Linked DNA regions of Homo sapiens: region 1 is linked to region 2. The links come from fine-mapping of genetic effects on gene expression. A gene starts in region 2. The other region holds a variant in brackets. All regions are shown on one strand. Distances are from middle to middle. Region 1 overlaps MXRA7 (matrix remodeling associated 7). Region 2 holds the start of METTL23 (methyltransferase 23, arginine).

Evidence for each region.
Region 1: its variant is fine-mapped to the expression of METTL23 in whole blood (TOPMed, PIP above 0.99).

Annotation. Positions count from the first base shown.
Region 1 is chr17:76,679,096-76,684,460 of GRCh38, reverse strand. It overlaps MXRA7 (matrix remodeling associated 7), which reads left to right. Exons shown (of 4, transcript NM_198530.4): 4 at 3,582-4,895. The coding sequence ends at 3,594. Among named protein-coding and RNA genes, the nearest start is that of MXRA7, 29 kb to the left of the region's middle. RefSeq lists enhancers at 1-392, 1,486-2,032. The variant G/T (reference allele first, on the strand shown) is at 3,181.
Region 2 is chr17:76,724,335-76,729,661 of GRCh38, reverse strand. METTL23 (methyltransferase 23, arginine) reads right to left here and starts at 2,823. Exons shown (of 5, transcript NM_001080510.5): 1 at 2,484-2,823. It overlaps JMJD6 (jumonji domain containing 6, arginine demethylase and lysine hydroxylase), which reads left to right and starts at 3,056. Exons shown (of 6, transcript NM_015167.3): 1 at 3,056-3,315; 2 at 3,807-4,195. The coding sequence starts at 3,187. RefSeq lists enhancers at 7-637, 1,295-1,923, 2,554-3,183 and silencers at 2,443-2,892, 3,003-3,132.

The DNA of each region.
Region 1 (5,365 bases), 45 kb after region 2:
CAGTGGGACAGCTGGGGAGGTCTCAGCAGAGGGACAGTCCTTTGCACCAGGCGCAGCAGGCTCCTGGTGCTCACCCACACTGCTGCCCTTCTGCAGCGTGGCCTGGAGTCCTTTGGTTAAAGCAGAAGTCTAGGTGGTAGCTGTGCCATTTTCCAAGCCTGGCGACCCAGAGCAGCTTGTGGGAATCACCCCCTACTTGTCAGCAGAAACCAGCGGTCTAGGGTCCGAGCAGGAGGGGTGGTTTATGATTTTGGAATCAGAACTCAACTGCCCTCTCATGGCTGCATGCCAAGCCACCCGCCGGGCAGCCCTCTAACCTCACAGCTGCTCTGCCGGTGACAGGCCCTGTCTCCCCTCCCGCTGCTGGCATCAGCGCTCTCGACCCTCAGCAGGAAAGCTCTTCACCCTGGGTGGGTGGGGGGCGGGCAGTGTAAGCACAGCCAGGAGGAAGAGCCCTGGCAGGAGCCCCGAGTCCTCAGGTGCTGAGGATGCTGCCGCTTGGCATGACCAGGTTTGCTGCATTTATATTTCAGGATTGAGCTGACCTCTGACCTCACTTCCCTGTAGCAAGTTCCTTAGGTCCTGAGCCACAAATATTCTTGCAAATCCTTTTGGTAAGGACACTGATTTCTTAGACTAGTGGTGCTCCCCTTCTACTGCGTGCTAACGTGCCCCCAAACAACTGACGCGGCCTCAACCTCCCCTCCTCCATCGCCTTCATAACCGATTAATACATTTCCCACCTGAGCCCTTCTCATTCTTCTCAAGCACGAGGAATCTCTGGCAGAAGAGGCCCCGTCTGGGGGCAGAGGTTCCTGGAGGGGAGTTAAGTCCCTGAGTTCCTGGAGGGGGCCTAATGGGCCGGCAGGTTGGGGTGCTAGCGCCCCCTCGCAAGGCTGGGGGAACTGTCACCCTGGGACCTCAGGCTTCGGAAATGTGGATGTCGTCACCCTGCAGCCTTGGGTCTCACCCTGAGAAGATGAGGCAGCTTCTGCACAGTGCACAGCAGATACTCTGAGAACGGTCCGTGCTCCCAAGCTGTGAGACAGGCAGGTTCTTAGGATCAGGGCAAGGGTTAGCAGACAACGGCCGGGCCACATCTGATCCCCCACCTGCCTGTGCCAATCCAGCGTGGCAGTAGTAGCAACACTCACCCATTTTCCTGTGGTCTGTGCCTCTTTGTGCCGCAGTGGCCGAGGTGAGTCACTGCAGCAGAGACCACACAGCCCCCCAAATCTAAGTAGTATCTGGCTGTTTGCAGAAAAAGGTTGCAGTCCCTGGACAGAGGCTAGAGGGGGCTGGACACAACTGCCAGCCCTTGAAGGTCCCTGGGGACAGAGGCTGCTCAGGCAGATGGATCTGGAGGGCCTCTTAGAACAAGAAAGACCAGGCCTCCGGCTGGGGGTGAAACTGCCACTGCCACCCACGTCCAGAGCTGGGACCTTGGCAGTGGGGAGGGAAAATCCCTTCCCCTTATTTTCAGAGAGTAGACCCTCTGCTGCCCATCCTTCCCCCACTGGATCTTTGGAGGTCTCTAGACCACCAACCCACACTTGGCTGTTCTGTGGGACCGAGACTGTGCCCGAGGTGCTGCTCCTGGGACGAGGGAAGACTCCTCGACTCCTCTGCATGCTGCAGTTACCACTTTGTGCCCTGAATTGAGAAGGAGGGGCCGGAGGACTTCTTGGGGCAGGACTGGAGTTCACGTTCATTCCCATCACTGCCCAGCCCGCATGCTCCCTGTGGCTCCTAGGCATGCCGGTGGCATCTGCTTGCTCCCCCACACCTCTGCCCCCCTGCATGTGGTTGCCCCTCGCAGCACTGCGTGGGGTCTCCGCGGCTCCACATCACGCTGTCCTCACACGGTGATGCTTGGGGTTGCAGAGGCTGGTCAGTTTGGCTTTGGCTCTTCATCTTCAGCACGATGGTTCTCATGGGGGTGGGGAGCGCTGGCAGCTGTGAGACAGTTCTGGTCCCAGCCAAGTCCAGGGAACCGCCCTAGAATCATCAGTATGAAAAATAACATGCCTGTTGTTATCAAACCACTAAAACCACAGGCCAGCTAGCAGGGTGCTCTCTCTCCGCCTGTCAGGTTCCACCCTCCCGGCCTCCATGCCTCTGATGCCTTTCCCAGCTCTCAGGGTCCAGTCGAGTTGCAGCTACAAGCTGCACGTCCCCTAACTTTAAATTTACTAGCTCAGCCAACAGATCTGCATCTAGAACCTGAAGCTTTAGTGGTTGCCAGTTCCAGCACTCCCCAGGAGCTTCAGTTCACAGGCTCTCATGACAATTAGGAAGTGGGACTGGAAGCAGAAGGCCCCCAATTAGTTCCCCGACATGCTGAAGTGGTCAGTCTCATCCTTGAACTACTCACAGATCAAATTCCTTCCGCCTGGGGCCAGAAAGCGGTCAGGTCTGTAAATCCAGAGGCAGCTGCTGCTTAAGATCCTGCTTGCCACTGTCTGCCCGCCTCCTCAGCTCTCCCCTCGGGCCGGAGTTTCACACACTTCATGCCTCTGGTGGCGTCCCTGGGTTCCGCTGAAGCTGCTGTGGGAAGTGCCACCTCCAGTTTCACAGTGTGGCTAGGACAGTGGGCTTGCAGGCTGGTGACAGCTCCCCTGAGCAAGAGGCCTCCTCCTCCTCCCCCAGAGCTAGGGAAGCTGGCAGGGCTTGGCTGGCTTCACAGCTTGGCAGGAGAAAGAACAGGCGCGGCTGTCAGCTCCTCTCCATCACTTCTTCCCACCTTGTGGTCTCAGAGGGAAAATGAACCCAGGCTATAGACTGGGCTGGCTCTGATAGATCAGGACCCACCCCTCCATTTGAGGTCTGCAGGGCTGTCTTGACTCCTCTGGAAATGGACATGACTCTAGAGGAAGGTGCTAGTGTGGTAAAACAGGGAAGGGGAGGAGGAGGCCAAGGAACCCCAGCTGTGGGGTAGTTCTGGTTCTTCCATCTGATGTATGCAAGAAACTACAGACAATAGACCTGCCAGTGTGAATTTCCAGCTCAGGCTGGAAATGCGTGCTGACTGTGACCACCAGGAGAGGGCGTCAGAGGGACAAGATCAGACCTGCTGGGTTCTCAGTGGTCCCAGGGCTGGCAGTGTGTCTTGGTTCATAAAAGACGGGCATGCAGTTGGCTCCATCTGGAAGCGTGCATCCTAGGGTGCCAGTATCCCCC[G/T]AGGGGACAAAACTCAGCCAGCGGGAATGGGAAATTATCTAGGGTGATAGGAATATTGTCAGCACAACCACACAACCCAAGATCAGAAAGGCCCTTGGCAACTCAAATGCCCAAGTTCCTTCCTTAAGTACCCTGCAGAGGCTGAACAGGGTCTGTGGGCTGCCAGGTTCTGTGCGGGATCAAGGGGAGCTCTGCAAGCTCTGGCCGGCTTGGCGGCACAGACTGTCTTGCTGCAAGCGATGAGAAGCAAATCAGCAGTGGTTTGAGAAACCAGAGTCTAGCGCAGCTTCTGCAATTCCAAACATTCTCCTTCCTCGTCCCCATTTCCCCCTTTCCTTGCCCATGGTGCAGGATGGAATGAGTAAAATAAATTATCTTTTTCTCCCCATTTCTCTTTACAGAACTGAAGAATAACGAAGTTATCCTTAGCGTCCTCCTAAAGGCTTTTCCTTTTGGCATCTTAAAAGCTTGAGAGATAAAACGGAAACCCCAGAGAGGAGTCTGGGCAGGCTCCCAGGGTGCATGCTGCCTCCATAAATCTGCTGAGCTCTAGACCCTCAATCAGGACTTGTCCCTTGGCTAGCAGGATCCTGGGAACACCTTTGGCCCTGCCCTGTGTAGAGATGTTCATGTCTGTTCCTGTGGGTCACTTTGTTAAGCTGAAGAGTTTTAAGAGGTAGAGCTCAGACCCTGGACTGGGATTTTTCTTACCACTCAAACTTGCTATCCACACACCCTGCACACCTTAGATAAAAAGAACATTTTAAAAGCAGAGTTCACTTTCACTCCAGTCTCCCCTCTTTTGCCCTCACTGAAGCCAAACCACAGAAGACTTTGAGGAATGAGAGACAAATGAGGTAGAGCTCACCTGTGCTCACCAGCTCCGTCAGGGTGGTCAGCCGACCCCTTTCCCTGGGAACCCCACTTCTCTCTGTGGCTGGCTTGGTTGTCGGGGGTGAGATGCCATATTGATTACAGGGCAGCAAAGAACCAGTACCAGGAATTTACTTGACCATTCCCCTTATTTTTCATCTAGAGGAATCTCGGATTCAGCCCTTTCATTGCTAAGACACCTTTTCACTGAGGTTCTTACCAGCTCAGCCAAATCTCCACTCTGCTATAGCAGAAGCAATAATGTTTGCTTTAAAAAGATTTCTTGACCTATGCCTTTTCTTAGAAAGTTTGATAGATTAGTTAGAACTTCAGATCATCAGATCAGTCTCAAATGGGTTTCTTGGAATTTTATATTTGACAATATTTATACTATACCAAACTCATTTGCAGTTCTTAGGTTTGTTGGTTAAAACATTTTTTTAAAGCAGTAAGTTTATAGAAAATGTTTTCATTTAATGGAAGGCTGGGGAATGTCCAGCATCAACCCCTATGGCATGCATTCCCAGGGGCCTTCTCATCTGGGCCTGGAACCTTTGGTTCAGGGCTTAGGGGAGAACAGGCCACATGGCAACAGCCACACAGTCATTGCCTTCAACACAGAGCCACGTGTCCCCAAACAGCAATAGTCATGCCCTTGTCCAGGCTGGGATCTAATTGACACAATAGGTCGTTGACTCCCTCCTAGTAGAGCTATCTAGGTTTGTCTGGAAAGTTTCCGACCCTGGCTTATAGGCACCACACCTCATGTACTCCTCATGGCTTGGATCTCTGTATTCAGCCTTTGTTCAGTCCAATAAACTTTGAGTAGATGATCTCAATTACTGTGTGTTTTTTCAGTTTGCTTTGTTTTAAAACAAAATCCCTTTTGAACCCATTGAAGTTTGACCTTTCTTTCATTTTGATGCCTCTTACTCTGCAGCAGAGTACAAAGCCATACATCCACCCTGTTAAAAAATATGCAGTCACCATGGCTGTCAAAACCACATGACATGATCTGTGTTCACTCAGGGACATATGGATTGTGCTTCCATCCACAGAGCTCAGCACATCCTTTCTGTTCACGGGAATTCCTCTTCTTCTTCTTTTTTTTTTTTTTTTTGAGACAGGGCCTCCCTCTGTTGCCCAAGCTGGAGTGCAGTGGTGCAATCACAGCTCACTGTGGCCTGGACCTCGTGGGCTTAAGTGATCCTCCCGTCTCAGCCTCCCAGGTAGCTGGGACTACAGGTGCTCACCACCACACCTGGCTAATTGTTTTATAGAGACAGAGTCTGACTATGTTGCTCAGGCTGGT
Region 2 (5,327 bases):
ATAATTTAGCTGCTGGAAGTTGGAATCATTCATACAGCAATTTCTGTCAGGCATTGGCATCCATTACAAAAATGGCAGCCCTGTTCACCAATCCACGACCTTTGGGGATATAAAACTGCAATGCAATGTGATAGAAACTCTTGATAGCACTGTTTATTCAACAAGTGCTTCTAGTGTCACAGTATCAGGGATCATTCTCAGACTGGGGATATAGCTCTCCCTGAGCACATATCCTACTGTAGAGAGGCAACGAGCAAGCAAATAAGATATTTCTAGTCAGGGGCCGGGCACGGTGACTCAGGCCTGTCATCCCAGCACTTTGGGAGGATGAGGCGGGCGGATCACCTGAGGTCAGGAGTTTGAGACCAGCCTGGCTAACATGGTGAAACCCCTGTCTCTACTAAAAATACAAAAAATTAGCCGGGCATGGTGGCACGTGCCTGTAATCCCAGCTGAGGCGGGAAAATCGCTTGAACACGGGAGGCGGAGGTTGCAGTGAGCCGAGACTGCGCCACTGCACTCCAGCCTGGGCAACATAGTGAGACTACGTTTCAAAAAAAAATGGCCGGGCGTGGTGGGTCACGCCTGTAATCCCAGCACTTTGGGAGGCCGAGGTGGGTGGATCATCAGGTCAGGAGATCGAGACCATCCTGGCTAACGCGGTGAAACCCCGTCTCTACTCCACTAAAAATACAAAAAAATTAGCCGGACATGGTGGTGGGCACCTGTAGTCCCAGCTACTCCGGAGGCTGAGACAGGAAAATGGCGTGAACCCGGGAGGCAGAGCTTGCAGTGAGCAGAGATCTCGCGACTGCACTCCAGCCTGGGCGACAGAGCAAGACTCCAACTCCAAAAAAAAAAAAAAAAAAGGAAAGAGGCTTCTATTCTCACAGGCAATATCATCACCCCCTACATTTAGGAAGAAATGCAAGTGTATTTAAACGTGAAGCCAGCCGGGAGCGGTGGCTTACACCTGTAATCCCAGCACTTTGGTAGGCCGAGGCAGGTGCATCACCTGAGGTCAGGAGTTCAAGATCAGCTTGGCCAACATGGCAAAACCCCGTCTCTACTAAAAATACAAAAATTAGCCAGGCATGGTGGTGGGCGCCTATAATCCCAGCTACTTGGGAGGCTGAGGCAGGAGAATCACTTGAACCCACGAGGCGGAGGTTGCAGTGAGCTGAGATTGTGCCACTGCACTCGTCTGGGTGACAGAGCGAGACTCCATCTCCAAAAAAAAAAAAAAAAATCCGTGAAGCCAGATTGGGTGTGGTGGCCAATGCCTGTAGTCTCAGTTACTTGAAAGGCTGAGGTGGGAGGATCACTTGAGCCCAGAGGTTGAGGTTGCAGTTAGCAAAAAAAAGTGAAGCTGTTTGGAAACAATCAGAAATAGCCTCCACTCCAGTCTTTTTTTTTTTTTTTCTTCTTGACAATGTCTTGCTCTGTTGCTCATGCCTGAGTGCAGTGGCCTGATCATAGCTCACAGCAGCCTCGACCTCTCGGGCTCAAGCAATCCTCCCACCTCACCCTCCGGAGTAGCTGGGGCTACAGGCACAAGCCACGATGCCTAATTTTTCTACTTTTTGTAGAGACGTAGTATCACTATATTGCCCAGGCTGGTCTGGAACTCCTGGTCCCAAGCGATCCTCCCGCCTCCGCCTCCCATTTAACTTCTCTAAAGCTGTTTCTTTAGCATGGGACATGCCTCACAGGCTGGTGTTAAAACCAAATGAAATACTGCAAAGTGAAAGTGCTTTGAAAAACCGAAGACAGGCAGGGCATGGTGGCTCACTCCTGCAATCCCAGCACTTAGGCAGGCGGGAGGATCACTTGAATCCGGGAGTTGGAGGTTGCAGTGAGCTGTGATCGCGCCACTGCGCTCCAGCCTGGGCGCCAGAGCGAGACAGTGTCTCAAAAAAAAGAAAAGAAAAAGAATTATTATTGAGAGTTTTGTTGTAGCTGTGAGCTTAGAGGAAGAAGCGAGGTCCAACCCAAGAAACACTTTGGGCACCAAATAAAACTGGAAACCCTGATCCCAAAACTCACACAAAAGTGAGAGATAAGGATGAATCAAGAAACCCTTGGACAAGATCAAAAGAAGCATTAGAGGTCAGTCAAGAATGTCACTTTCCTGGCAGGAAAGATTCGATGTGGAGAAAGCCGGCCCGGCGCAGTGGCTCATGCCTGTAATCCTAGCACTTTGGGAGGCCGAGGCAGGAGGATCACTTAAGCTTACAGTTCGAGACCAGCCTGACCAACATAGTGACCAGGGTCACTTCTTGGCAGGGTCTCCAAAATTCTTACTGAGAGACATTTAATGCACCGAAGGGCTTCATATCCGACGTTTTTGCTCCGGGGGTCAACCTAAAGCAGGAAGCTGCGCAGCTGAGCGTCCGCACCCCCGGTCCCTCAGGAACCCAGCCAAGTCAGCCGACATCCGCTCCTGACCTCAGGCGCCTCCTGGCGGGTGCTGCTGCACGCACCTGCGGGACGTGGACCTCCAGGACAGCCCCGTCGGCCCCCGGACCCGGCTCCTCCGAGAATCGAAAGCGCTGGGCCCGGACCCCCTGTCCTCGGAAATCGTGCTCGCCCAGTAGGGCGTCGTTGGGCCCCGGGCGGGCGGGGGACCGCGGAAGGCTCCGGGCTGCCAGACTGCGCGAGCGGGAAGCCGCGGGCCACGTGGCCGTAGCACCTGACGGCAAGAAGGGGAAAGCCCAGATCTGGTGATAACCCTGCCGCGCTGCGAGCGAAGAAAGCCCGGAGCAAGGCGAAAGAGACTCACACGCGCAGAACTGGCAACGGGCGGCTGGCGCGACCGGAAGTGATGGGCACAGCGGCAGCGCGGGAGGGGAGGGGCGGGGCGGGGCGGGGCGGTGACGCAGCCGACGTGACCTTCCCAACATGGCGGAGGCCCGCCGTATGTGAAGGAGTACCCCAGGGGAGCCAAAGCCAATGGAAAACCGCGAGAGGCGTCGGGGCGGGGAAGACGGCGGCCGCTTGCCCAACCCGAGGCTCGGGAGGTGGCTGGGGAGTGAATTTTCTGGAAGGCGACTTTAAAGGCGCCGGGACTGAGCGAAGGGCGTTTGGGTACTGCCGTCGCCGCCGCCCAGGCCGGGGAGGGGTGCGTTAGTGTCAGGAAGCGGGCTGCGCCGAGGTCGTAGCGGAACCAGCTGGCGACCCCGCAGAATGAACCACAAGAGCAAGAAGCGCATCCGCGAGGCCAAGCGGAGTGCGCGGCCGGAGCTCAAGGACTCGCTGGATTGGACCCGGCACAACTACTACGAGAGCTTCTCGCTGAGCCCGGCGGCCGTGGCGGTGAGCGGGTCGGGCGGGGGTGGCCAGGCCGGGCATCGGCACCTCCAGCCGCTACGCACCTTTCTCTGGGCCCGAGGCTGCCCTCGCCCCGAGCGCCCGGGACCTCGTAGAGGCTCACCCGCACCCCGCGGAGTTTGGGGTCCCCGAGGCGCGGATTCCGGGGCGGGTCTGCTTCCTCCCGTGCTGTGGCCGCCCGTCTGCTCTGGCGGACGACGGGAGTCCCACGCCTGTGGCGCTCTCAACTAGAAGGCCCGTCGTCCCTGACTCCTTTGGGCGGCGGGTCCCCTAGGGGACCTGGCTGTCAAGGCTCATGGGGGGTGGCTCTAGGAACGACGTGGCCTCACGCACGCGCCCTGCCCCCACCCCGGAGGAGCCAGACGAGAGTCAACTTCCTTCGGTTTGTCATTACCAGTTGGCCTTGGGGACACCCTTATCTGCCACTGGACTTTTTTTTTTTTTTTAACTGGACAGGTCTTTTTTAATTCCCTCAGGATAACGTGGAAAGGGCAGATGCTTTACAGCTGTCTGTGGAAGAATTTGTGGAGCGGTATGAAAGACCTTACAAGCCCGTGGTTTTGTTGAATGCGCAAGAGGGCTGGTCTGCGCAGGAGAAATGGACTCTGGAGCGCCTAAAAAGGAAATATCGGAACCAGAAGTTCAAGTGTGGTGAGGATAACGATGGCTACTCAGTGAAGATGAAGATGAAATACTACATCGAGTACATGGAGAGCACTCGAGATGATAGTCCCCTTTACATCTTTGACAGCAGCTATGGTGAACACCCTAAAAGAAGGAAACTTTTGGAAGACTACAAGGTGCCAAAGTTTTTCACTGATGACCTTTTCCAGTATGCTGGGGAGAAGCGCAGGCCCCCTTACAGGTAAAGTATTCTGCAGCTAAGTGGTTAAAATCCTTTTCTTTTTTTTTTTTTTTTTTTTTTGAGACAGAGCGTCACTCTTGTAGCCCAGGCTGCAGTGCCGTGGTGCGATCTCGGCTCACAGCAACCTCCATCTCCCGAGTTCAAGCGCTTCTCCTGCCTCAGCCTCCTGTAACTGGGATTACAGGCATGCGCCACCACACCCAGCTAATTTTGTATTTTTAGTAGAGACGGGGTTTCACCATGTTGGTCAGGCTGGTCTCGAACTCCCGACTTCAGGTGATCTGCCCGCCTCGGCCTCCCAAAGTGCTGCGATTGCAGGTGTGAGCCACCGCGCCCGGCCTGTGGTTAAAATCTTATCTACAACAGCATTTGCTCGCTGAGTTCAGTTGCTAATCTTTTTTGGAAACAGTGAGTACTCCCTCGGCTGTACATTGAACTCATTTAGGGGGCTCCTGAGGCCTGCCTGGGCCCTACTGGGGAGACTGATTTAATTCGGGTGATGCCTGCGCATCAGAATTTCTGAAAGCTCTTCAGGTGACTTGAATGTGCAGCTATGGTTGAAGCACTGATCTCTAAGGGAGGTTTTAATAAAGTCCAGCAATAAACCACATTAGTGATTTTTCTTTTTTTTTCTTTTTTTTTTCTTCATTGAGATGGAGTCTCCCTCTGTCGTCCAAGCTGGAGTGCAGTGGCGCAATCTCAGCTCACTGCAGCCTCCGCCTCCCGGGTTCAAGCAATCCTCCTGTCTCAGCCTCCTGAGTAGCTGGGATTACAGGTGCCCACCACCACACCCGGCTAATTTTTGTATTTTCAGTAGAGATGGGGTTTCACCGTATTGGTCAGGCTGGTCTTGAACTCCTGACCTCAGGTGATGCACCCACCTCTGCCTCCCAAAGTGCTGGGATTACAGGCGTGAGCTACCGCCCCAGCTGATTTTTCTTATTTTGTTAGGAATCAGTCCATGAACAATGCACCCAGTGTTTCTGTGTACCAGAATTTATATAATCTCTGAAATAAAGATGACATATCACATAAAATTAAAACCTGGCCAGGTGCGGTGGCTCAAGCCTGTTATTCCAGCACTTTGGGAGGCCGAGGCAGGTGATCACTTGAGGCCAGGAGTTCGAGACCA